7 linked regions of the Homo sapiens genome follow. The protein of the gene in region 2 interacts with the protein of the main gene of each other region in a pairwise test. Each region holds a gene or a part of one and is shown on either strand. Other genes may lie near its edges.

Region 1 (3,500 bases), on a different chromosome or scaffold from region 2:
GAAACATACATAAATATATGTATCTATATATACTTATGTATTTGTTGTTTAAACAAAAAAGAATTGAAGTTTTTATTGAAGAATATACATTTCTTTCCATGCCAATGAATATATAAAGTGCTCAGAACAGTGCCTTACACATAGTAAATGCTACATAAATGTTAGATACAATTATTTTCATCAATTATTATTTTGAATGTTTATAGCATACCAATTCTGTATCAATGAACAAAGTATTTCCAATTTTTCACTATTTTAAAAAACAGAATCATCCTAATAGCTTTTTTTTAATTTTTTTAGATTAAATTGCTAACAGTAGAACTGTTGAGTCAGTGGGTAGGCAAATTTAAAAATGTCACATATAGTCACAAACTTCCCTTCAGAAAAAATGAATCAATGAACCTCAGGCAAAGGGTTGGGAGAGTGATTTTTTTCTACATCATATTCAATACCACATATCATGATTGACCTTTTACATCTCTGCCGTATTAATACATATTTTTATTTAACTTAGTGTTATTTTCATTTGAGTTTAAGTTAAAATTTTTATTGCCAGCAAAAATGAACTATTATTGAATTATTTTATTTTATTTTTTTTGAGATGGAGTCTCGCTCTGTCGCCCAGGCTGGAGTGCAGTGGCACGATCTCGGCTCACTGCAACCTCCACCCCTCCAGGTTTAAGCAATTCTCTGCCTCAGCCTCCGGAGTAGCTGGGATTATAGGTTCGTGCCACGCCTGGCTAATTTTTTGTATTTTTAGCAGAGACAGGGTTTCACCGTCTTGGCCAGGCTGGTCTTGAACTCCAACCACCTCGGCCTCCCAAAGTGCTGGGATTACAGGCGTGAGCCACCGTGCCTGGCCACTTATTGACATTTTTAATTTTTTTTTAGGAAACTGCCTTTGGTAACCCAATGCCCACTTTTCTATTAGATTCTCATTATTTTCATAGTAATTTGTAAGAGTTCTTTTGTGCATACGTGTCACTAGGACTAGTCACAGAGTCACATAAGACTATGTGTTCTATTTCTCACTAGAGTTTACTTCTTTTCATTTTTGCTTTTTAACTTTGTAGAATAGCTCTTTAAAAATTGGGTAGTATAAGATCTATCCACCTTTTTCCTTTATGATTTGTGGCTTGCTTGTCCTGCTTTGAAATTTTTTCCTCCTCCAAGCACATATAAAGACTTATCTATATTATCTACTAGTAACTTGAAGACTTTCACTTTTTAAAACGTATTTAAGTTTTTGATACTTTTGGAATTTAACTGGGTATACAATATTCAATAATTTTCCTTTTTCTAAATGGTTATTAAGTTGTTCTATTATTTTTTTCTCTCAGATTTGAAATGTTATCTTTATCTTGTACTAAAATGCTCATACATAAATAGGTTTATTAATATTCGTTCCATTGATCTGTCTGTCTCTTCTGGAACCAATACCTTCCAATATCTCACCATTTTAATTATCTGCAGTAATAATAAAAAAAAATGTTAGGTGCTTCTGTACCAAGAAACATGCTAAAAAAGTTTTGTGGGGAAAAAAAGAGAAAATCTGTATGGTTAAAAAAAAAAAACTATAGCTAATTTGCTTTTATTTCTTTACTGGCCATCTTCTTGAAATTGTAGTTTCAAAGCGTTAAGTGTACTTTCCCCATGCCACTTATTAATTTGGGAACTTTCTATATGTGATATATACTATGTCGTACACCACTATTATTCACTTCTATACATTGTGGGAAATACGGTGCTGGGAGAAGCACTAGAGCCTTCTACACAATTTATACCCATGGTACTATAAAATAATTAGCCATTATTTATAAAGCAAGCCTTATTATACACAGAGAATAATTGTTGTTTCAAAGTAAAAAGTACAACTTGACCTCTTCTCTCTCAATATTTTTAAAAGAACATAAAACAAAACTTGACAAATATAATATCTGATAGAATGGAGACAAAAAAAAAAAAAAACCTTCCAGGTAGGACCAGGAAGTCAGCCTAAGGTTTAGGAAGCAATGCCTCAGAAGAGGCATCGCTGCTGCCAGCCATAAAAGCAGAGCCAATGCAAACTCTGGACATGAGCAGAAAATGAAAACAAAAACACAGACGCGCACACACACAACCCCTTAACGTCTTCATAATTAAAATCTACAAATTAATGTTGGTAAAATTTCTGATTTAAAATGGAAATAAATGATATTCAGATATAGGAGAATTTATTGCAGTTTCAAACATCCTTAAGTATCCTGGAAAAATAGAAAATTGTTTATGTACCCTAATGCATTCTAAGTAAATATTGCAGATGGACAGTAACAGCAATACAGAAACACAGAAAATGTAAATAAGAGTAAATATGTTATTACTATATGAAATAAATGACAGAATAGATTTGTCAACACAGCAACTATAATAATTGCTACAGTCAAATTTATTTATTGTCATTTAATTCTGAAGTCATATTCCCCCTTTCACACTAGATTCAAAGGTAATTTAAGAGTAAGAAAAAGCAGTAAACCTTTAATCAGTCTCTCATGTTTAATTTCTTATAGAAATAATCTCTCAGAAGAAACACATCTGTTTCCCTGCCTCCTTTCCCAACTTTCCACCTTCTTTTCCAAGTTCCAACTTATAACTTAAGATACAAAAATTACATTTGCCATCATTCATACCTCAATGATTACAGATGCTATTGGCTGGAAAGGATTCGTTGGTTCTGGGTCCAACTCAGCCAGACCACTGGTTCCATCGAGTTCAGCCTGCTCCTGTTCATTTTGTTTTCTATCGTTTGAGGAAAAATAATTGAAATTTCCTTTGAGAAAGTGCTGAACCATGTTAAAGAAAACTGCAATAGGTATAAGGCTATTACATGTAGTAATTTAAACATCTGGACATGGTTTTGAATTACTGAGAGCATTTCAAAAATCCTTATGCAGGTAAGAGGCTGCTTCCTCCCATGTAAAGACTAATCATTTCAATTAAAAAAATGCTGATAAAAATGACATTTCCTATGAGTGACTTCTTAATATCAACAGTGCAATTATTCTTCCATGTGCCAAGGGTATTACTGATCAACTTATTAATTACCCTCCAAAATCAATGCTGTCCTCTTTACTGGTGTTAACAAATAGTAATTATTCTTTTTTTTTTTTTTTTTTTTTGAGTCGGAGTCTTGCATTCTCGCCCAGGCTGGAGTGCATTGGCACCATCTCGGCTCACTGCAAGCTCCACCTCCCGGGTTCACGCCATTCTCCTGCCTCAGCCTCCTGAGTAGCTGGGACTACAGGCGCCCGCCACCAGGCCTGGCTAATTTTTTGTATTTTTAGTAGAGACGGGGTTTCACCCTATTAGCCAGGATGGTCTCGATCTCCTGACCCTGTGATCTGCCTGCCTCTGCCTCCCAAAGTGCTGGGATTACAGGTGTGAGCCACCGCGCCCAGCCAAATAGTAATTATTCTTATTAATTCTTTTCTTAAGGGCTAAGTCTTCTCTTACAAAACTAGGAA
Region 2 (3,500 bases):
TGGATGCCCGGTTATTCTGGCACCATTCGTTGAAAAGACTATCTCTGCTACATCGTATTGTCTTTGTTCCTTTATCAAAGATCAGTTGGGTCTATTTCTGGGTTCATTATTCTGTTCCATTGATCTATTTGTCTATTCTTTGTCCAAAACACATTGTCTTAATTATTGTAGCTTTACAGTAATTTTTTTTTTTTTTTGAGACAGAGTCTTGCTCTGTCACCCAGGCTACAGTGCAGTGGCGCAATCTCGGCTCACTGCAACCTCCACCTCCCAAGTTCAAGCGATTCTCCTGCCTCAGCCTCCCGAGTAGCTGGGATTACAGGGGCCCGCCACCACATCTGGCTAATTTTTGTATTTTTAGTAGAGATGGGGTTTCACCATCTTGGCCAGGCTGGTCTCGAACTCCTGAACTTGTGATCCACCAGACCCTACCTCCCAAAGTGCTGGGATTACAGGTGTGAGCCACCATGCCTGGCCGCTTTACAGTAATTCTTCAAGTCGGGTAGTGTCAGTCCTCTGACTTTGTTCTTTTCCTTCAGTATTTTGTCACCTATTTTGGGTTTATTTTATTTTATTTTATTTTTAGACAGAGTCTCACTCTGTCTCCAGGCTGGAGTGCAGTGACGTAATCTTGGCTCACTGCAACCTCCGCCTCCTGGGTTCAAGTGATTCTCCTGCCTCAGCTTCCCAAGTAGCTGGGACAACAGGTGCCCACCACCACGCCCAGCTAATTTTTTGTATTTTTAGTAGAGATGGGGTTTCACCATGTTGGCCAGGATGGTCTCGATCTCTTGACCTCATGATCCACCCACCTCAGCCTCCCGAAGTGCTGGGATTACAGGCGCGAGCCACTACGCCCTGCGGGTCTTTTGCTTCTCTATATAAACTAACTATACAATTAGTTTGTTGATATTCACAACTGATTTTGATTGGGATTGTTTGAATCTATAGTGAGTCCTCTTATCCATAAACATGGAATATCTATCTATCTATTTATTTTATATTTATTTATAAATTTATTTATTTATTTATTAAGATGGAGTCTTGCTCTGTCACCCAGGCTGGAGTACAGTGGCACAATCTCAGCTCACTGCAAACTCCGCTTCCCAGGTTGAAGCAATTCTCCTGCCTCAGCCTCCTGAGTAGCTGGGATTACAGGTGCGTGCCACCATGCCCAGCTAATTTTTGTATTTTTAGTAGTGACAGGGTTTCACCATGTTGACCAGGCTGGTCTCGAACTCCTGACCTCAAGTGATCCACCCGCCTCAGCCTCCCAAAGTGCTGAGATTACAGACGTGAGCCACCGCGCTTGTCCCCTTCATTTATTTAGTTCCTTGATTTATTTAATCAGTTTTGTAGTTTTCCTCATAATAGATATTGTACATATTTTGTTAGATTTATACATAGGCATTTCACTTTTTTAGGTGCTAATGTAAATGGTAGTGTTTTAAGTTTCAGATTCTACTTGTTCAGTGCTGTTTCATAGGAAAGTGATTGCATTTTATGTATTAACCTTGTATCCTGCAACCTTGCTATAATTGCTTATTAGTTCCAGCAGATTTTTGGTCAGTTCATTTAGATTTTCTACATAGACAATCATGTCATCTGCAAACAGAGATAGTTTTATTTCTTCACTCCCAATCTGTAGTCCCTTCATTTCCTTTTTCTGAAGGAACTACATTGCATTTACTAGGACTTCCTAGCAAAGACTGGGAAACTGCTAAGACTTGTTCATACTGAATGCAAATTCAATGTATGAAGCAGTGGTGACAGGAGACATCCTTGCCTGTTTCTAATCTTAGTGGGAGTGCTTCTACTTTCTTATCATTAAGTATGATGTTAGTTATAGGCTTTTTGTAGATATTCTTTATCAAATTGAGGAAATTATCTAGTGTACTGAGAGTTTTTATCATGAATGGGTGTTGAATTTTGCCAAATACTTTTTCTACATCTATTAATATGATCATGTGATTTTTCTTTTTTAGTCAGTTGGTGTGATTAATTACATTAATTGATTTTCTTTTGTTTTTATTTTATTCTCTTTTTTTTTTTTTGAAATGGAGTTTGGATCTTGTTGCCCAGGCTGGAGTGCAATAGTTGATCTCAGTTCACTGCAACCTCCACCTCCCAGGTTCAAGTGATTCCCCTGCCTCAGCCTCCCGAGCAGCTGAGATTACAGGCGGGTGTCACCACGCCCGACTAATTTTGTATTTTTAGTAGAGACAGGTTTCTCCATGTTGGTCAGGCTTGTCTTGAACTCCCAACCTCAGGTGATCCACCCACCTCGGCCTCCCAAAGTGCTAGGGTTAAAGGCGTGAGCCACTGCACCTAGCATTAATTGATTTTCAAATGTTGAACCAGTCCTGCATACCTGGACTAAACCCCAGTTGGTGTGGTGTATAATTCTTTTTTTTTTTTTTTTTTGAGACGGAGTTTCACTCTTGTTGCCTAAGCTGGAGTGCAATGGCATGATCTCGGCTCACCGCAACCTCTGCCTCCCGGGTTCAAGCAATTATCCTGCCTCAAGGTCCGGAGTAGCTGGGATTATACGCATGTGCCACCATGCCCGGCTAATTTTTATATTTTTAGTAGAGACGGGGTTTCTCCATGTTGGTCAGGCTGGTCTCGAACTCCTGACAGGTGATCTGCCCACCTCGGCCTCCCAAAGTGTGGGATTACAGGCGTGAGCCACCGTGCCTGACCCCATCCATTTACTTTTAATCCGTATGTGTCTTTTTTTGTTTGATACAAGGTCTTACTCTATCACCCATCACCCAGGCTGGAGTGCAGTGGCACCATCTTGGCTCACTGCAGCCTGAAATGCCTTGGCACAAGCAATCCTCCCACTTCAGCCTCCCAAGCAGCTAGGACTACAGGCACAAACCACCACACCCAGCTATTTTCTTATTCTTTGTAGAGATGGGGTCTCACTATATTGCCCAGGCTAGTCTTACTCCTGGCTTCAAGTGATTTTCCCATTTCAGCCTCCTAAAGTGCTGGGTTACAGGGGTGAGATACCACACTCAGCTGATCTATATGTATCTTTATGGTTAATGTGAGTTTCTTGTAGACAACATACAGTTGAGTCTTCTTTTTGTGTCCATCCTGACAATTTCTGCCTTTCAATTATGCACTTAGACCATTGACATTCAAAGTGATTACTGATATAGTTGGATCTACCACATTTGTTACTGTTTTTCTATTTGTTACCCTCATTCTTTGCTCCTATTTTTGTCTTCCACTTTTTTTTTTGCCTTTGGTGGTTTTAACTGAGCATTTTATATGTTCCTGTTTTATCTCCATTCATAGTGTATCAGTTGTACTTTTTTTTAACTTTTTTTAGTTATTGCCCTGGAGTTTGCAGTTTACAAGTACAACAAATCCAAGTGCACTTTCAAATAACACTATACCATTTCATGGATCGTGTGAGTACCTTATGATAACAAAACAATCCTAATTCCTCCATCCTGTTCCACGTATCATTGCTGGCATTCATTTTA
Region 3 (3,500 bases), on a different chromosome or scaffold from region 2:
GGGGAAGGAGCAACAGAAGCAGGTCTCATGGGGAGGTACCGTTTCCTCGGTTATCTTTTTTATTTTTTTGAGACGGAGTCTCACTCTGTCACCCAGGCTGGAGTACAGTGGCACGATCTCGGTTCACCGCAACCTCTGTCTCCCAGGTTCAAACAGTTCTCCTGCCTCAGCCTCCCAAGTAGCTGGGACTACAGATGTGTGCCACCACACCTGGCTAATTTTTGTATTTTTAGTAGAGATGGGGTTTCACCATGTTGGCCAGGCTGGTCTCGAACTACGGACGTCAAGTGGTCCACCCGCTTCGGCCTCCCAAAGTGCTAGGATTACAGGTGCGAGCCACTGTACCCGGCCTGTTTATTCAGTTGTCTGGAGTTGACAGGACAGTCCTGAGTCCAGCAGGCTGTGGCTGTGGCCCCTGGGGTGAGTAGGCAGAATGAGGTAGGTGGTAGGAGGGGCAGCCTCACTGTCTCCTGAGAGGCCCTGGGGTCTCCGCTCCAGCCCCGGCCTTGAGGCTTCGGGGTCTACCTGAAGGTGTGTTCCTGGGGGGACGGTTCGGTCCACGGAGGATCCAGAGGCCACCCGCAGGCTGATGCAGGGCCGCCGTACCATCACTGTCCACACCTCCTCCTGCCTGGTGTGGCATCCGGTGGTGCCTGTCCTCCTGCGCTCAGCCTGGTTCTGGTCAGCTGGGGAGGAGGGGCTCAAGCTCCGAGGCGGCGGTGCTGCGCCTGTACACCAGGAACTGGATGGAGATCTGGGGGTGCCGCCGTTAAGGCCAAGCTGAGCAGAGACTGGGTTGGACCTGCCCCTGGGGGCCTTCGACTCCTGGGAGCTGCCTCCCTCTCCCCTCCCTCCCACCCCCACGCTGCAGGTGGGAAGGGCCAGCCATAACCTCCCAGCCGCTACCTTAGCTGTGCCCTCCACTCAGAACTTCTGCCCGGCTCCTCAAGCCCTAGCCAAGCTCCATCTGTCTCCAAGCCTAGCACTGACTTCTCCTTCCCGTGGGCAGCCTCCCTTGACCCTGGCCCAGGATCTTCGCTTGCTCTCAGCTGTGGCGTCCTGGAGGCTTCCAGGTGGCTGGGCCGTTTTGGGGCACAAGAGCCTAAACTTTCACCCCTCCCTGCGCCCGGCAGGGACTTAACAAATATTAAAACAAAGGCCATGTTTACTTGCTCCGAAATGAGACCCAGGTAACGCTCTTTACAGCCATTCAGCAAACACTTTCTGAGCCCTCACTGAAAACGGGGTCCTGTGGGGAGTGTTTCCAGATACCTCATCTTACACAACATCCTGACGAGACAGTGGCTGTTAACTGAGGTGAAGACACGGCAGCACAGAGAGGTTGACTGTGTGCCCTGCGTCACACAGCTAGGAAGCAGGGGAGGAGCCAGGATTTGAACCCAGGTTTGTCTGACCAAGTCATGTGTCTCTCCACACTCCAGCTCTCGTCTGCACAGCCTAGAACATTCCTCTCCTGCCTTCGCCTGACTTCTCCTACTCTGTCAAGTCACAGGTTCAATGAGACTTATAGGGGCCTTTGCTGCCCCTCTAACCAGGACGGTCCCTGGCTAGACGCTCTTGTTGTTTTTCTCTGCAGCACTTGGTGCCACTGCAATGAAGTAATTCTTTGATGATAGCGTTGTGTCCTCTCTGCGCCCCGCTGGGCTGTAAGCTTCTGGGGCACTCATGGCTGTTCTTGCTCACTCACGGCTCCAGGGTCCAGCTGGGTGCCTGGCACACAGGAGGTGTGCACGACTGGGTGAACAGATGGAGGGAGGGAGGGAGGGAGGGAGGGATGGATGGATGGACGGATGGATGAAGGGAGGAAGAGACGGATGAGTGCTGACGCTGTGTGCAGGCAGAAGCTTCCTTGCCCACACCCCGCCACCTGCCCCACACGCCCTGAAGGATACGATGGTGTCGAGCAGCAGCACGCCCAGGCTGCCCACAAGCCAGGGCAGGTGGTGCAGCAGGTAGCTGCCCTCGCTCTGGCCCTCCTCGGGGTTTTTGAGCAGCACGCTCAGCCCATACAGCGTGTTCCCCAGCATCACCAGCGCGAACAGAGAGTAGGAGATCCCCTGGGTGGACTTCCGGAGGAACTGGGGCAGGAGGAGGTCAGGTCAGAGACCTCGAACAGGCCTCTTGTCACTCTGGATTGTAACTGTCCACATGTCCACCTGCCCCACCACAGTGCACCTGCTCTGAGCCAATCTTTCCCTGGGTGCCCAGGGATATGGGCCCGACACACAGAAGAGCCTCCTCCCACCCACAGACAAGCCCCCCCAGGCCCCTGCCCAGGTCCACGGGAGACCGTGGCTGTGCCAGGCCTGTGGCCCCACACCACCCTGCATTCCACCCCACACAGGCTCTAGCTGCCCAGCAAGCCTCCCCTCCCCGACTCCCCAGCTTCTCCTCTCCCCTCAGGCCTCCAAGCTCAGCCCCTCACCTTCCCCTGACCTCCCACTCCCCCAAGACACACATGGGCCTCTTGTAGCCTGGCTGGCAGGCCACGCCACGCCCATTTTCCAGAAGCAGAAATGGAGGCTCGGAGATTGGATTAACTTGCCCAAGCCAACAGCGGGAGTAGACCAGACTTTCTGAACCAAGGCTCCTATGCTGTGCTACTCCTTAGCCCAGAGGGCCCGGGTGGCCAGGCCAGCTCTCCTCTACTCGGCCCCACCCAGCCCCTGCTGGAGGCTCACGTTGGTGCGGATCTGAGGCAGCCGGGAAAGCAGGTACAACACGCTGGAGATGGAGCCGATGACGAAGCCAATGACTTCCTGCCGGGTGAAGGGCTGTGGGGCAGAAGGGGGCACTTGGTGTCTCGTAGGAGCCAGAGGTGATCCCCCACCCCATTTAGCACCCATGAGGCTGTGCAGGGGAGAGCCCTGGGGATGAGCCAGCCTCCATCCCTTCGACCGCCACGCCCACGCCTCACCTTGCTGCCCGACTCCACGGACAGGAGCGCCCGCCCCCGGAAGGCTTCCCTAGGGGCAGCCACGGGCCCAGCAGCACTCAGCAGCGGTGTGGCGCACGCCATCCCCATGAGGAACAACAGCACGGAGTTGATGGGGGCAGACACTGCACACAAGGCAGGGGGAAGCTGAGGTTAGATGGCTGAGTGGCAGCGGTTGTCGGGGGAGGGTGCTAAGTCCTGGCCTTGCCCCTCAGGGGCTGTGTGACCTTGGGCAAGTGACCTAACCTCTCTGAGCTTTCATTCTTCATCTGTCGAATGGGTACAACAACAGTACCCTTCTCCTAGAGTTATAAAGGTGAAACGCTGAGGGCAGGGAGGTCAGGAGGGGGTTACACGAAGCAGGAACGCTGATGAGACAACTTCCTCCCCAGGTCCCTCCCCGTGTCTGTATAGCCTCAAGCTGACCTTGTCTCCTGCTCCTCCTGAAGGCTGGGGCAGAGGCAGCCTGTGTGACTTGCCCTCGTTTCCCCAGCTCCAAGCCCAGGGCCGGACACAGAGGAGGAGCTGGAGCTGTGTCTGCTGA
Region 4 (4,264 bases), on a different chromosome or scaffold from region 2:
CTTGGCTAGTAAGAGGAGGAAGAAGAAAACTCTAGTGATGGAAATCACCTGGAGCCAACGTTTGGCATCAGACATGAGCATGGACAGGATAGGCTGCAAGGAGGAATCAGGCATGATGGAAGCAAAATGGCTTTCTAAGAAGCAGTGGGAGATTGGAATGGCTAAAGTAAGATGGGGTCAAACATTTCCTGTAAATTAAAGACAGGAACATAAAACATATCACTTGAAATTTGTACACATTTCATGTGACTGAACACTTTGAGGCAATAAATCTTGACATACTTTTTCAGGGGCATGAGTTAATGTGGCTAAAGTTCAGATGAGGTGAGGATCAGATATTGGAAGAATGGGAATCCATATTAAGGACTTTGGATTTGATGAAAGAGTCCATTTATGGTGTTACTGGAAATATTTCACTAGGGCTGGAACATTGGCCTGCGGCTGGCACACAGGATGAAGGTGGAATAAGTCAGGGAGACCACTTAGGAAGCTGCTATGATAGGCCAAAGTGGGAAGCTGAGTACCTGGACCAAGATGGAAGCAGCAGATTGGAGAAAGAACACATCTGAAAGTCGCTGTGGAGATGGAAATGATAGGACTTAGAAATCACATGGGAAGAGCCAGAGAAAGTCCTTAGGTTTCTCCGGGTAACTTAAGCATAATAGGAACACTATTAGAAGTTCATGTTCCCATGAAAGTTCCTTACCTGTGGAGCCTCCCATGCCCTCCTGGTGAACCTCCATTTCTAAGGAAACCCTATAGCATTTACTGAGTATCTTAATTCTCCAAAAAATCAGACTTCTCCAAAGAAAGTCTTTAAGCATGTATTCACTAACTTGATTTTGCAAAATTACGTTAGCAAATACGTGCTATAAGGTTTCTAACCCGACAGACAAAAGCATGTAAATCATTTTACTGCTAGTTTTGGTGGAGGGTAGTGACAACTGCCAGTGTTTCAAAAAAGAGTAACATATCCAGAGTTTGTTCACACAGAAATGAATGCTTTTTAGCTTCATAACCCCTGTGCCCTTCCCGTGAGCCCCATCTCCCCAGGAAACGATATAGTACCAATTTACTAACTTAATTTGTAAAAGGAGGTTAGTGAATCAATTCTGTAAGACTCATGGAAATATTTGAAATTAATTAGCCTTGTCAGCTTTTATTTGCATAGGCTCTCTTCCAACCATATCCCCCAGCCCAAGTACAACGTTTTAGTAAGATTGATTTTAAACAATGAGACTTAGAGAATCTGTGTACAAGGAGCTTGAATAATTTAAATGCGTGGGTTTATTATTAACACAGTAGCAAATATATCAAGGAAACACGCCCCATGAAAAGTGTTTCAAAGAAACACAAATCTGTACTGAAAAAAGTCTATACGCAATAAGTAAGCCCAAAGAGGCATGTTTGCTTGGCGATGCCCAGCAGATAAGCCAGGCAAACCTCGGTGTGATCGAAGAAGCCAATTTGAGACTCAGCCTAGTCCAGGCAAGCTACTGGCACCTGCTGCTCTCAACTAACCTCCACACAATGGTGTTCGCATTTTGGAAGGTCTTTCTGATCCTAAGCTGCCTTGCAGGTAAGGAAAGGATCTCCAAACCACCAAATATAATTGGAAACAGAGTTTCCTTTTAAATAAAAATTCCACATTTTTACATAGAATTTTCATCTCCTGTACTTCAAATGAATTGTGATTAGTATGATGAGTTAATTTTCAGAACTCTTGCTTAGCAAACATATGCCATGCTGATATATTAGGGGTGTAAGCCCATAATATTATTGTTTTATGGAGCTTCTGAATGAAAATTTTCTCAGAAAAAAATATAGTTTATTACTTTACTTACTTTGAAAAGTGAAAAAAATGAATTTACTCAGAAACCAAACTTTGTGCTAGGGATAATTTTGTCTCTGTTTTACTTACTTTAGTGTTTCCTTTAAGCTCAGTGATTGACTTGCTCTAGCAGGCAGAGCCTGGGTTGGAGGGCCTGCCCTGGCTTACATATGGGAAGAACAGAAATTTACTGAGTACTTTACTGTCTAATATTTCTTAAGGAGTTGTGGTTTTCCAATCCTAAGACTGTATTTTGCAAAATATGTGAGTGATTTATGGTGCACAACATGGGTGATTTTAGGTATCTGAACAGAAGAAAATCAATTTTGGAATCAAAATACTGATGTTAGTTAGATCCAGGAGAGATCATTAATTCCAAAAATCCCTTGGGTAGTTTTCAAATATCAGATACATTTTGCATCTGTTCTTATAAGTTAGGTCCATAGTAAATACAATAATATTGTTTATCCAAAAACAGGATTTTCAAGCCATTAGTAATATTAGGCAGTGGTTAGAATGAGGTTTACTAGGCGTATTAATGACATAAGAAAATACCCACGATAAAATATTAAGTGAAAAAGCAGGATGCACACATATGCCTAGAATAAATTACTAGAAGGTTATATACCGAAGTGCTCATGGTGGTTGCCTCTGGGTGATGGGATTATAGATGATTTTAATTTTATTTCCCAGCTTTTCATACTTCCTGGGTTTTCTACGAAGAACATTATGCTATTTTTATAATTAGAAAAAAGTGTTACTTTTCAAAGTGATCTCATGTTTAGAAATAGTTCTTTAAATGTTCATTACTAAATGTTTAAGCATAGATGTTTTATGGAGTTAAACATCACCAGAAGGCAATACTCCATTTGTCCAGTGACCTAACTAGGCCCTAGAGCTGGAAACACATGTTCCTATTTTCCCTTCTCCCCAGGCATATTCATTTAAATGTAACTTTAGATATGGAAGTTTTGTCTCTTCTTAAAGGGTTTCCAGTCATTAGCCAGTTGGGTCGACCCCTGGGCCTTCTGCATCAGCCCTCTAAGATCATACCTGTTTCCCTATGTGAAGCCTTGCCCTGGCCCATACTAGGCACAGGGTTTGGAACGGTTGTTAAGAACAGTTTTTTTTTTTTTTAACTGTACCTAACATACAAGTAATTTTTACTGATTATAAATGTAATGCATGGTCATTGTAGAAAGGTTGGAAATATGGAAATTTAAAATAAAATAAAAATCATCTGCAATTTTACCACTCAGATTTGGGTGAATTATTATTCTTTTATTTGCAGGTGTATATATTACATTTTAAAAATTGGGTTTATTCCTTGTATACTTTTTTATTGTTTAAAAAAATTGTTTAGCATCATGTCAGGATTTTATTTTATTGTGACTTTTAGAACAAGACCAATAAATACTTCAGAGTGTGTTTCCTAAGTTACTATATAACTGATTTTGTTGGTATATAGTGTACACTATATATCTACACACATATTATCTAGTTGGCCCAAAGCAGTAGTGTCAGTACAGCAAATTGTGGTATGCTCTATTGTCGTTTGCTGTGCTTACATATGTATTGAAGTCAGAGAAAGGATCACTTTAGTAATCTACACCTGTCATTAGCAGTGTTCATCAGTTGATCTGGACAACTGATAGTGTTTCCATCAATGTGCAATTTGATGTTCTTCCTGGACTTGTTTTGGAGAGAATGTCACTTTTTGGTGTTAAGCGTGGTGCCTAACACATAGTGGATGCATAGTAAATGTTTGTTGAAAGAATGAATTACTTTCCCAAATTCCAAACATCCAGACATCATTTTCACATACATATTTAAAATTGATTTTGATATAACTAAACAGGTCAGATTTTGCTTAAATCAAAATATTTTCAATGACTTCTTAGGAATTCTTAGGTTAAATTCTAATTCAGGAAAACGAGTTTTAATCAAACTTCTGCAAAAAATTTATGCATATCATTTTAGGTATTTGAAATATGTATTAGTCACCTCTTAGAAAGATATGTTAATGTGGGTTTCATTTTCTGGAGGTATATGCTATGCATTTTAAAGGAGTAATATATTTGAACTTTGAGTTTGCACTCAAATCCAAAAAAGTGAGTGATCATTTGATTATATTATTTCCTAAGTCAAAATGAATCTATTATATATGAAGTTGCTGGAAATTAAATCACTTCAAATCTATCAGATTAAATATGAATATTTGGGGGATATTTTGCTGTGGTACATTAGGAGGATAATAATCCTTCTATAAGCAAAATGTTTGCCACCTTGTAGGCATTAAATGAATGAACAATCACCACCAAAATACAAGACATTCTCTCTCTCTCTCTCTCTCTCTCTCTATATATATATATATATACATATATATATACATATATATACACATATATATATACATATATATATACACATATA
Region 5 (2,734 bases), on a different chromosome or scaffold from region 2:
GGATCCTGGGCACCGTCACACAATGGGGAGTGGACCAGCCTGGACAGGCTGGGTGGGGTCAGTGCCCCCCATGGCTGATGTGGTAACCATAGGCCCTGAGGTGTGAGATGGGAGAACCTGGGCCTCAGAACAGCATGTCCTGGAGCGTCCTTTGTGTCTCTTGCCAAGGGGTTGAGAGAGAGGACAAGGACACTGTCCCATTTCAGCATCACCAGCCCTGAGTGCAGGGTCTGGCCACAGCAGGGACACTGAGTTCCAGGAGAATCCAAGACACTTGCGGTCCCCTCCGTGTCCTGCACACGTGGCCCTGCTTTGCCTCTGGGGACTTGACCCTTCCTCTCAGGCAAACCCTCGTGGTCTGTTTCCTTCCTTGGGTCCTCAGTCCCTTTCCTGGGTCCCTGGGTCAATGTTCTCCTGGCCCGGCATCTGCCTGAGGGTCCTTCCCCTCTGCTCAGGACAGATGTGGGTTCCTAAAGCCTTTCCTCAACTCCCCTCTGCTGGGCTCCCCCTAACACAAACCTGAGGGAGACAGGAGGTCTCCATGCCCATCCTTGAAAATGGGTTTCCCTTCTTGTCCCCTGTTCGAACTCCAAAGTTGTGGCTTTTAACCTGGCACCCTCCCAAATGACCCTGACCTTTCCTAGAACCAGCATCCAGCGTGACCTCAAGGAGCAGCAGCCCCAAGCCCTTGCCCCTGGTGAGTGTCCTCTCAGCCCAGGTGTGGCTGGGAACCCCTAGGACAGCCCCACAGTGTCCGCTCCTGCCAGTCACTGCCAGGCAGACTCTGATCCTTTCCCGGGGGCTGCAAGGAGGATCTCATAAAACATCACACAGGGGACCCCAATTGCTTGGGTCAGCCCTCACCTGTGGGCTCTGGGTCATGGGTCACCTCCCCAACCTCAGCTGCTCAGGTATCTTAGAGCTGAGGACCCCCTACGCCTTCCTGGAGAGGGGATAAGGCTCTCCTCCCACCCTGCTGCTCACTCCTGTCTCTGTTTCCAGGCCGTGGTCCCTCCCACAGCTCTGCCTTCTCGGTAAGCCTGTCCCCTTCCAGCCCCTTTCTACTGGGGTCCCAGCTGTGCAGGCTCTGGGCAGAGGGACCATCAGCCCCCCAGCACAGAACAGACCCACCTTCCCCCAAAACACACAGGACAAGGCTAGCCCTGCCCTGGCCAGGAGCTGGGCCTCCCTACAGGGTCAGGACCACCCACGCCCTGTGCTGACCCCTCCCCGGGACCCTCCATCACCTGAGGAGACCCCTGGAGTGCAGCAGGTGCAGAGTGGACACTGGGACCATCAGTCAGGGGCCCACATTAACAAGGGTGCAGGGTGGGCCCAGCCAGGAAAAGGGTCAGGGTGCTGTGTCCACACTGGGAGGCTGAGCTCAGGGGCAGAGCTGGTCACTCCTGAGGGGAAATGACCAGAAGTAAACACAGAGAAGTAAATCCTGGCCAATCAGAGACAGGAAACTTCCAGGCTGGGCCTCCATGACCCTCCCTCCCTGTCCACAGATGTCCCCTCTCTCCACTGCCCAGGCCCCCCTACCCAACCCCAGGACAGCAGCTTCCATCTATGAGGTGAGTGTGGGCCACGGATGTTCTGGTCCCACAGGCCCCAGGGGACCCAGGATCTTCCCCTACTGGCATCGGCTGAGCTCTGAGATTCAGGAAACTGCTGTGAAAATAAGAACGGGGGTGGCGAGCAGAGGAGGGAGGGGCTTGGGAGCAGGAACCCCCTGAGCACAGCCAGGTTCAGCCCCAGAGCAGCCCTGGATGGGCCCAGAGCCTGGGAGACGCCACACCCTGTTCTGAGGAGACTAGAGGGGTCCAGGCCTCTTCTCTGTTTTAACAGGAATTGCTAAAACATGACACAAACATTTACTGCCGGATGGACCACAAAGCAGAAGTGGCTTCTTAGCTTCCTCCAGGAGCTGCTCCTGTGTGTTGATGGAGAGTCCCCAAGGCCCCCAGCCCTGGGGATGGGGAAGGACATGAAGCCTGAGCCAGAGAACCAGCTATAAGTCCTGAGAAGACACTGGTGTCTGGGGGCAGGGAGGGATGGGGGTCCCTGATGAATATCTGGAGACCTCGACAGCCTGCCCTAGGCCCTGGGTGGGTCAGGACAAAGGCCTCTCATCACCGCAGAAAGCGGGGGCTTGCAGGGAAAGTGAATGGGCCTGTGGCCCACCTGGGGTCACTTGGAAAGGATCTGAATAAAGGGGACCCTTCCTCTCATTAGCTGTTTTTCTGCTAGTGGGAACTTAGCAAAAATTCGCCTGAAACTCCATATCCATTCTCTCCTGGGTCACACAAGGAAAATGTCATCTCCAACTTATTTCAACCCCAGTCTCTCTTCCCTGGGAGGCAGAAATAGGGGGTTGGGAGTCAGGCTGGGGTGGACCCTACACAGGAAAGGGCAGGATTCACAGGAGACCTGCCCAGCCAGCTGAGCGCTTGGCTGTGCTCATACTGCCCCAGGGACCCACGGTGCCTAGCCCTGGCCACTGGGTTTCTTCTCTGTCCAAAAGGCCAGTGCTCAGGACATCTTTACCCATATCAGGGGACACACAGAGGGCCTGTCAGAGTAATCAAGGTGAGGACAGACCCAGAATTTAGTCCTGGAGTAAAATCCTCCCAGACACTACCTGGGACTCTAGCCCATCATTTCCCATCAGTTCCCACTTTACCCCCTGGAGTGGATCTCACTGAACAATCCTCCACTCCACACAGGAGAT
Region 6 (3,500 bases), on a different chromosome or scaffold from region 2:
AGACTGAACAGGTCCTGGGCATCCCAGACGATGGCTTCAAACTCTGGAGGCAGGCACTGTCCCTGGTGGTCTCTCCACTGAACCTTAGGCTTGGGGTACCAGCCACTGGATCTGAGCCTCAGCTGAATGCCTCCTTCCTTGAAGCCCTCAAGGGAGAGGTGAGGGTCTGAGCCCAGCCCTGGTGGAGGCAGGAGGAGTGGGAAAGGTCAGGCTTCTTCTGAGAAATCACGCATAACATTCCTGCCACTGTTCAGCATTTGCAGTCACCATAAAGCATCATGAAGTGTGACTGCTATTAAGACGTGTGTGGGCTTGGCGCTCCCCGCCCATGGACGGGAAATGACAGTCTAAATCAGTGGTAGCATGTGGGGACAGTAATGCCCCTGAGGGACATTTGGAAATGTGAAGGGGGTCATTGGGTGGGGAAGGGCTCCTGGCATTTAATCATGTTAGGCAAGGGACAGTTTCCCTAGAATGAAGAATAGCAGCACCCTAAATTCTAATAATTAGAGTTGTGACTCTTCTCCTTCTCTTGAATTCCCCCAGAGCTCTAGTGCCTGCATTATACACACTCCCTTATCTCTCCATCCTTGTGGAACTAGCATTATATTTTGAGTATGCAAAACATTAATGTGGCATAAATGCCAATGCTGTACAGAAATGTGTATCAGGAAAAAAGCGCCATCCTTCCCGTCATCACACCTCACCCTCAGCGGCCAATCTCATCAGCTTCTAGTTTATCCTTCCTATGTTCCCTTTTGCAATGTTTCTCCTTCTTTCTTACAAAGCAAGTGTATGTTATCGAACCTTGCATCTTACTTTTCTCTCTTAACAATACTAGAAATCACTCTGCATCCATTCAGAGACCACCTCATCATTGTTTCAGATGCATAATACAGATTACTCCATTGGGTGGATAGAGCATACTCAGCTTTTATGCTTGGACATTTAGGTGGTTTCCACTATTTTGCAATTGTTTTTAAAAAGCTTTACAAAGATTAAACTCATACATATGCTTTTTTCATATTGGAGGTATCGGAGGTGGAGTAAGTTCCTGGAGGTGGGATTGCTGTGTCAGAGGGTAGCCACACAGCTAGTCCTCTTAAGTATTACCAAATTTCCCTGTCCGGGAGCTTTCCAACTTTGAATTCCACTAACATAGTATAAGACAGCTTTCTTCTCCATAGCTCCATTAACAGTACATGGAAGAGCTTTTGAAATTTTGCTAGTCTGACAGTTAAAAAAAAATTGCATTTTGACATAGCTTTGATTTGCCTTTCTCTCACTATGAGTAATTTTGTTACTCAATATATTATATATTATATATATTATATAATATATATTATTTTTATATTATATATATTTATATATCATATATATGATATATTATATAACTAATATAATTATATAATATTATATAACTAATATAATTATATAATATTATATAACTAATATAATTATATAATATATAACTATATAATTAATATATAGCATACTATATATATCTATATCTATATATATAGATAGATATATATATAGATATATATATATATTTCAAGACAGAGTTGTCACCCAGGCTGGAGTGCAGTGGCAAGTCAAGCTCACTGCAGCCAGATCCTTCCACCTCACCCCCCTGAGTAGCTGGGACTACAGGCACGCACCACCACACCTGGCTAAGAGATGGGGTCTCCCTATGTTGCCTGGGCTGGTCTCGAACTCTGGAGCTCAAGTGATCTGCTTGCCTCGGTCTACCAAAGTGCTGGGATTACAGGCTTGAGCCACTGTACCCGGCCCTTTTCATATATTTAAGGGCTATTTGTGTATTTTTTGGTGAACTGTTTGTTTTGTTTGTTCATTTGAGAATGGACCTATCCATCAGCTTTTATGTTTTTTAAAAATCACCGACATTCTTCTGTTCTCTGTGACTCCACCTCTACTTGGCAAAGCACCTGGATCTCCCTCTCCTCTGCAGGGCCTTAGGTCAGTCCACGCACCTGCTACCTCCAGTTCCCAGAGAGCTTCGCCAGAGAAGTTGTCGGAGTGGAAGCGGCAGCCATATGTGCCCTTGTCAGAGGGGATGATGCTGTGAAGCTGCAGGACCACGCTGCCATAGGCGATGTCGTCCTTGACCAACTTGGTCCTGTTCCGGAACGCCGGCATCTGCCTGCCAGGGAGCTCCTGCTGCTCCTGGTACAGGTGTACCACATTGAAGGTCTGACTCCGGAACCAGCGGATCTCCATTTGCTGGGCATCCAGCTGTGGCCATAGGTGGCACGGGAACTCCACCTCCTCCCCGACGAGGGCCAGGATGGGATACTCAGGGCCTAGCACCTTGACCTCTAGGATGACAAGTCAGAACAGGCAAAAGCAACCCTCATCCAATTTTTAAAAAAGTTATCACACCCCTTTATAGCTGAGGAATCTACAGTAAACCATAAAAACAAGAAAGGTGAGATACTCTACAGGACAACTGGCCTAGATCCTTGAACAAGTAATTTTTACGAAAAAACGTTGAGTGCACGATTAAACAAATACACAGGTGACATCACAACCAGATTTGTGGTGCTGAGCTGGTAACTGGTTTCATCCAACCAGGTACAAATGTTATTTTGGGGACAATTATGTAAATATGACCAAGGCATTAAGCGAAATGGAATCTTTGATCAAAAAAGCAAGTGTCAAAATAATCTGTAGAATATTATCTTAAGTAAAAAACATACGTATTTGCATAAATGTGCAGAGAAAAATACCTGAAAGGAGACATCAAATTGCTGATGGTGATAATTTCTGCATGATGAGAATAGATATTTTCTCATTTTTGCTTGTCTGATTTTCCAAGTTTAAAAAATAATTCACATGTACAGCTTCTACAAAGGGTATCAAAAATCATCCATGAGGGCTTCCTGCTCCACAGGTTTTCTTATCAAAAGGCCAACCAAATCCTTCCTTTGAGACTCATTTGTTGGGATCTTTCATTTGATCACCCTCCTCTTTGACGGCTTCTTCATGGGGCCTCTCTGCTCCCTGTGGTCTGGTCTGTTGTCTGCAGTTCCCATGAGAGTTGCTGCTCCTGCACAGTTCTTCCGCACGCACGGTTCCCTGCCACCCCACAGGCACTCACTCTTCTCTCTGGCCTCTGTACTTCTCCTCTCCTTTCTTTCCAAGTTCAGCTAAAACTCCATCCCAAAGCTCTCTTGTCATGGACACCCCTGTCCTGCACTTGGCCCACAGGAAATGGAGGGACCTTCCTTTGTTCACACTATTTGAGGCACCTCATTGCCCGCTGGGTGAGTATCCAATACCCTTCCTACAAGTTTCCCTCTCCAGGTTCTCTCCGGCTGTCTCTCTCCACACACCGATGTCTGACTGTTTCCCTGGGCACACCCTACCTCAGCTAATCCCCTACCTGTCAACTTCCTGGGGAACGTGCATCCTGTAAGCCTCTGCTCCAACTATATTCCCACTCTACGGCTCTCCTCAGCTTTCCGGGAACAAATCAT
Region 7 (3,995 bases), on a different chromosome or scaffold from region 2:
CTAAACCTTTTCTAATAAAAGTACTGCCTTAAGACCAGCAAAGAGAGACAGATTTGAGCTGGATTCCCGTATCCTCGTGGGTCAGCTCACAATAAAGCTTTCCTTTTCTCAAAACCTAGTGCCCTAGTATTGGAGTATTGGCTTCTATGCACATCTGGCAGCGAGCACTTTTGCTTGGTAACAGCGCCAGGTTCTTTTTAACAACCAGCTATTGCGGGGAGCTAATGGAGTGAGGTCTCAGGGAAGGCGTTAATCCAATCACAAGGCATCTGCCCCCATGACCCAAACACCACCCACTAGGCCCTCTCACCTCCCATCACCACCACACTGGGGAGCAAATTTCAGCATGAGGTTTGGTGAAGACAAATTAACCATATGCAGACCACAGGAGGGCCTCTCACATACCATTGCTCATATGTAAAGGGAGGCAGAAGCTGGAGGGAGGTGTCAGATCCACAGTTCTGAGCTGTGGCCTGAGAAACAGGATTTCCGGAAAGAGTTAGAGCTGGAGCCACAGGCCAGGCAAGGTGGCTCACACCTGTAATCCCAGTGCTTTGGGAGGCCAAGTGGGGAGGATCTCATGAGGCCAGGAGTTTTTTTTTTTTTTTTTTGAGGCTGAGTTTCACTCTTGTTGCCCAGGCTGGAGTGCAATGGTGCGATCTCGGCTCACCGCAACCTCCGCCTCCCAGGTTCAAGCAATTCTCCTGCCTCAGCCTCCTGAGTAGCTGGGACTACAGGCATGTGCTACCACGCCCAGCTAATTTTGTATTTTTAGTAGAGATGGGGTTTCTCCATGTTGGTCAAGATGGTCTCGAACTCCCGACCTCAGGTGATCCACCCACCTCGGCCTCCCAAAGTGCAGTGATTACAGGCGTGAGCCACCGTGCCTGGCAGAGGCCAGGAGTTTGAGACCAGGCTGGGTAACATATCAAGACCCCATCTCTACAAACAATTGAAAAATTAGCCAGGCATGCTGGCACAATCCTGTAATCCCAGCTACTCAGGAGGCTGAGGTGGGAGGATCACTTGAACCCAGGAGTTCAAGGTTGCAGTGAGCCAAGGTTGTGCCACTGCATCCCAGCCTGGGCAATAGAGGGAGACCCTGTCTCTCTCTCTAAAAAAAAAAAAAAAAAAAAAAAAAATTGCTGAAGACTTGGCTTCCCTCCCCCATCTCACTGTGCCCCAGGAAAATTCCGTGGCAGTTAGGGGACCTGGCCTGCTGAATGGGTTGGGGCCTTCTCTTGGATCAAGAGTCTCTTATTTGATCGAGGTCTGTTATTAGACTTCCTCATTCTTTCTCAGACCTCAGGCTGCATGGTGGCAGCTGATGAAAATATCCAAAAGATGAGAAGAGACAATTGAGTCTGGTGAGGGAAAGGGGAGACAGAGGGTGAAGTGGTGCTCAAGATGGATGCAGAGTACTCTGGGAATGAGTTCCCCAGGTCAGAAGGAGAAAGAGACCAACATCAGAGACCTGGAAAGGAAAGGAAGAGTGGGGAGGCAGGATGGGGCACAGGTGAGCTGGGACAAGATGGGAGACTGCTGTCCTCCACCCTCTCCCTCAGTAGTAACAGGTCCTTGGGCCAGCGCCAGAACTCTCCGCTGCCCTTTCAATGGAGAATCACACACAGCTTCCGCTGGATGGCCCAGGTGTTGGCCTCTGAGCTCAGCCTGGTTGCCTTTATCCTACTATTGGTCGTGGCCTTCTCCAAGAAATGGCTGGACCTCTCTAGGAGCCTCTTCTACCAGCGCTGGCCCGTGGATGTCAGCAACAGAATCCACACATCAGCCCACGTTATGTCCATGGGGCTCCTGCACTTTTACAAATCCAGGAGCTGTTCTGACTTAGAGAATGGGAAAGGTGAGCCCCTCCACCCCCCATCCCAGCCCAGGCCGCCAGCCTGTCTTGGCCTCTGTATCTGCACCCTGGATGTATTCTTGTTCCCTCTTTCTGGTCATCTTTACTTTTTGGCCTGCAAGATGGTTCCACTGGCACTGAGACCTCCGATGATCGTTTCTCATCCTGTAGCCTGGCTAAATAGATTTGATTGGTGCAATGGAAAATGTCACTGCTTTTGATAAAACCCAGAGCCAAATCTGTGCTTCTAAGAATGCTGTGAGAGAGTTGGGCATGGTGCTGCACACCTGTAGTCTCAGCTATCCAGGAGGCTGAGGTGGGAGGATTGCTTGGGCCCAAGAATTTGAGTCCAGCCTGGGCAATTTAGTGAGACTCCTGTCTCAAAAAAAAAAAAAAAAAAATCAGGCTGGGCACTGCGTCTCACACCTGTAATCCCAGCACTTTGGGAGGCCAAAGCAGGCAGATCACCTAAGGTTGGGAGATCGAGACCATCCTGGCTAACATAGTGAAACCCCGTCTCTACTAAAAATACAAAAAATTAGCCAGGCGTGGTGGCACATGCCCGTAATCCCAGCTACTCTGGAGACTGAGGCAGGAGAATTGCTTGAACCCGGGAGGTGGAGGTTGCGGTGAGCCGAGACCGCACCATTGCACTCCAGCCTGGGCAACAAGAGTAAAACTCTGTCTCAAAAAAAAAAAAAAGTTACGAGGGGCATGGACTCAGCACAAGAGAATCATTCATTAATCGCCTAATTTACCAGGGACAAGAGCCCCAGTGAGATGGGGGTTTCCTTAGTCTTGTGTACCCAGAGCTTTGAGAGGACTCCTTGCAATGTCCCCTCTCAGGCCCTGATCCCACACATTCTCCTTTCCTTCTGCCTCAGGCCTTGCTTTTCTGGATCATTTTCCTTTTTCCACATCTGGCTTCTGTGTTCCTTCTTTCCCTGAATTCTTGCAGCTGCTTCATTCCTCATCCTTGTTTTTTTCTGTTTGTTTCGCTGATTTTTTTAGAGACAAGGTCTCACTCTGTCACCCAGGCTGGAGTACAGTGGTGCAATCATAGCTCACTGCAGCCTCGAACTTCCAGGCTCAAGGGATCCTCCTGCTTTAACTTCCGGAGAAGCTCAGACTACAGGCCGTGGCCACCACACCTGGTTCTTATTGTTGTTAGTCTCTGGTTATGCTGTTCCCTCACCCCTCAGGAATTTGGAGTTCTTTCCCTGCTCCTGGGGAAAACCAGAGCTTTTGACCCTTATTTCCATTTTTTCACTCTCCTTAGCATGAAAAAAATCACACAGCTATTATTTTCTGAAAGTATTATGTCCTTATCATATGAATATGAAAATATTCATATAATGAATTATGAAAGCATTATGAAAATATTATGTCCTTATTATAATAAATTTGGGGAAACAAAAGCTATCCTTTATTGTACACTTACTCCATTTGTTCAATTTAGTCCTTAGTCAATCCTAAGGGATAGGGATAATTATCCCTATTTTAGAGATGAGAAAATTGGGACTCAGAGAGATTAAGTACCTTGCTCAGGGTCATAAAGCTATTTAGATTGAACCAAATGACATGCTAATATTTGACTGCTTTTCACCTACAAAAGGAGAATTTCACATGGATCAACCTAATAATGGCAGGGTTGGAATTGCAACTCAGGTGTGCCTGGCTCTAAAACTCACATAGGCGCCTTGCTCTACGGAGTTACTCAAAGACAGCCAGGCTTTTTATTTTTATTTATTTATTTATTTGAGACAGAGTCTTGCTTTGTTGCCCAGGCTGGAATGCAGTTGCGGTCTCAGGTCACTGCAACCTCTGCCTCCCGGTTTCAAGCGATTATCCTGCCTCAGCCTCCCAAGTAGATGGGATTACAGGCGCCCACCACCATGCCCAGCTAATTTTTGTATTTTTAGTAGAGACGGAGTTTCACCATGTTGGCCAGGCTGGTTTTGAACTCCTGACCTCAGATGATCCGCCTGCCTCGGCCTCCCAAAGTGCCTCGGCTCACGGATTACAGGCGTGAGCCACCGCATCCGGCCAAACATCACTGATTTTTAAAATTTATTTAATTAGGATTAGGTGTGTATAAACAGTGAAAATTCAAAGAATACAAAAGATTGTATACTGA

What was found.
Region 1: the proteins of NINJ2 (region 2) and ARL13B interact in binary tests that used the Homo sapiens proteins (3 or more experiments, as listed by UniProt).
Region 3: the proteins of NINJ2 (region 2) and SLC66A1 interact in binary tests that used the Homo sapiens proteins (3 or more experiments, as listed by UniProt).
Region 4: the proteins of NINJ2 (region 2) and VSIG1 interact in binary tests that used the Homo sapiens proteins (3 or more experiments, as listed by UniProt).
Region 5: the proteins of NINJ2 (region 2) and CEACAM3 interact in binary tests that used the Homo sapiens proteins (3 or more experiments, as listed by UniProt).
Region 6: the proteins of NINJ2 (region 2) and BTNL9 interact in binary tests that used the Homo sapiens proteins (3 or more experiments, as listed by UniProt).
Region 7: the proteins of NINJ2 (region 2) and ODF4 interact in binary tests that used the Homo sapiens proteins (3 or more experiments, as listed by UniProt).

Annotation. Positions count from the first base shown.
Region 1 is NC_000003.12:94,039,155-94,042,654, reverse strand, and holds part of ARL13B (ADP-ribosylation factor-like protein 13B), read right to left. Parts: intron 2,776-3,500; coding exon 2,667-2,775; intron 1-2,666. UniProt on the Homo sapiens protein: Cilium-specific protein required to control the microtubule-based, ciliary axoneme structure. May act by maintaining the association between IFT subcomplexes A and B. Binds GTP but is not able to hydrolyze fit; the GTPase activity remains unclear.
Region 2 is NC_000012.12:653,446-656,945, reverse strand, and holds part of NINJ2 (ninjurin-2), read left to right. Parts: intron 1-3,500. UniProt on the Homo sapiens protein: Its role in unclear. In contrast to NINJ1 paralog, does not mediate plasma membrane rupture (cytolysis) downstream of necroptotic and pyroptotic programmed cell death.
Region 3 is NC_000001.11:19,325,826-19,329,325, reverse strand, and holds the end of SLC66A1 (lysosomal amino acid transporter 1 homolog), read right to left. Parts: intron 3,082-3,500; coding exon 2,939-3,081; intron 2,796-2,938; coding exon 2,703-2,795; intron 2,100-2,702; coding exon 1,914-2,099; exon of another isoform or gene 1,756-1,913; coding exon of another isoform or gene 1,705-1,755; exon of another isoform or gene 755-1,704; coding exon 683-754; 3' UTR 26-682; downstream 1-25. UniProt on the Homo sapiens protein: Amino acid transporter that specifically mediates the pH-dependent export of the cationic amino acids arginine, histidine and lysine from lysosomes.
Region 4 is NC_000023.11:108,043,601-108,047,864, forward strand, and holds the start of VSIG1 (V-set and immunoglobulin domain-containing protein 1 isoform 2 precursor), read left to right. Parts: upstream 1-1,464; 5' UTR 1,465-1,530; coding exon 1,531-1,579; intron 1,580-4,264.
Region 5 is NC_000019.10:41,809,321-41,812,054, forward strand, and holds the end of CEACAM3 (cell adhesion molecule CEACAM3 isoform 1 precursor), read left to right. Parts: intron 1-644; coding exon 645-697; intron 698-1,002; coding exon 1,003-1,034; intron 1,035-1,511; coding exon 1,512-1,577; intron 1,578-1,851; coding exon 1,852-1,917; 3' UTR 1,918-2,234; downstream 2,235-2,734.
Region 6 is NC_000005.10:181,046,766-181,050,265, reverse strand, and holds part of BTNL9 (butyrophilin-like protein 9 isoform a precursor), read right to left. Parts: intron 2,868-3,500; exon of another isoform or gene 2,751-2,867; intron 2,340-2,750; coding exon 1,995-2,339; intron 179-1,994; coding exon 1-178.
Region 7 is NC_000017.11:8,338,645-8,342,639, forward strand, and holds the start of ODF4 (outer dense fiber protein 4), read left to right. Parts: upstream 1-1,195; 5' UTR 1,196-1,407; coding exon 1,408-1,861; intron 1,862-3,995. UniProt on the Homo sapiens protein: Component of the outer dense fibers (ODF) of spermatozoa which could be involved in sperm tail structure, sperm movement and general organization of cellular cytoskeleton.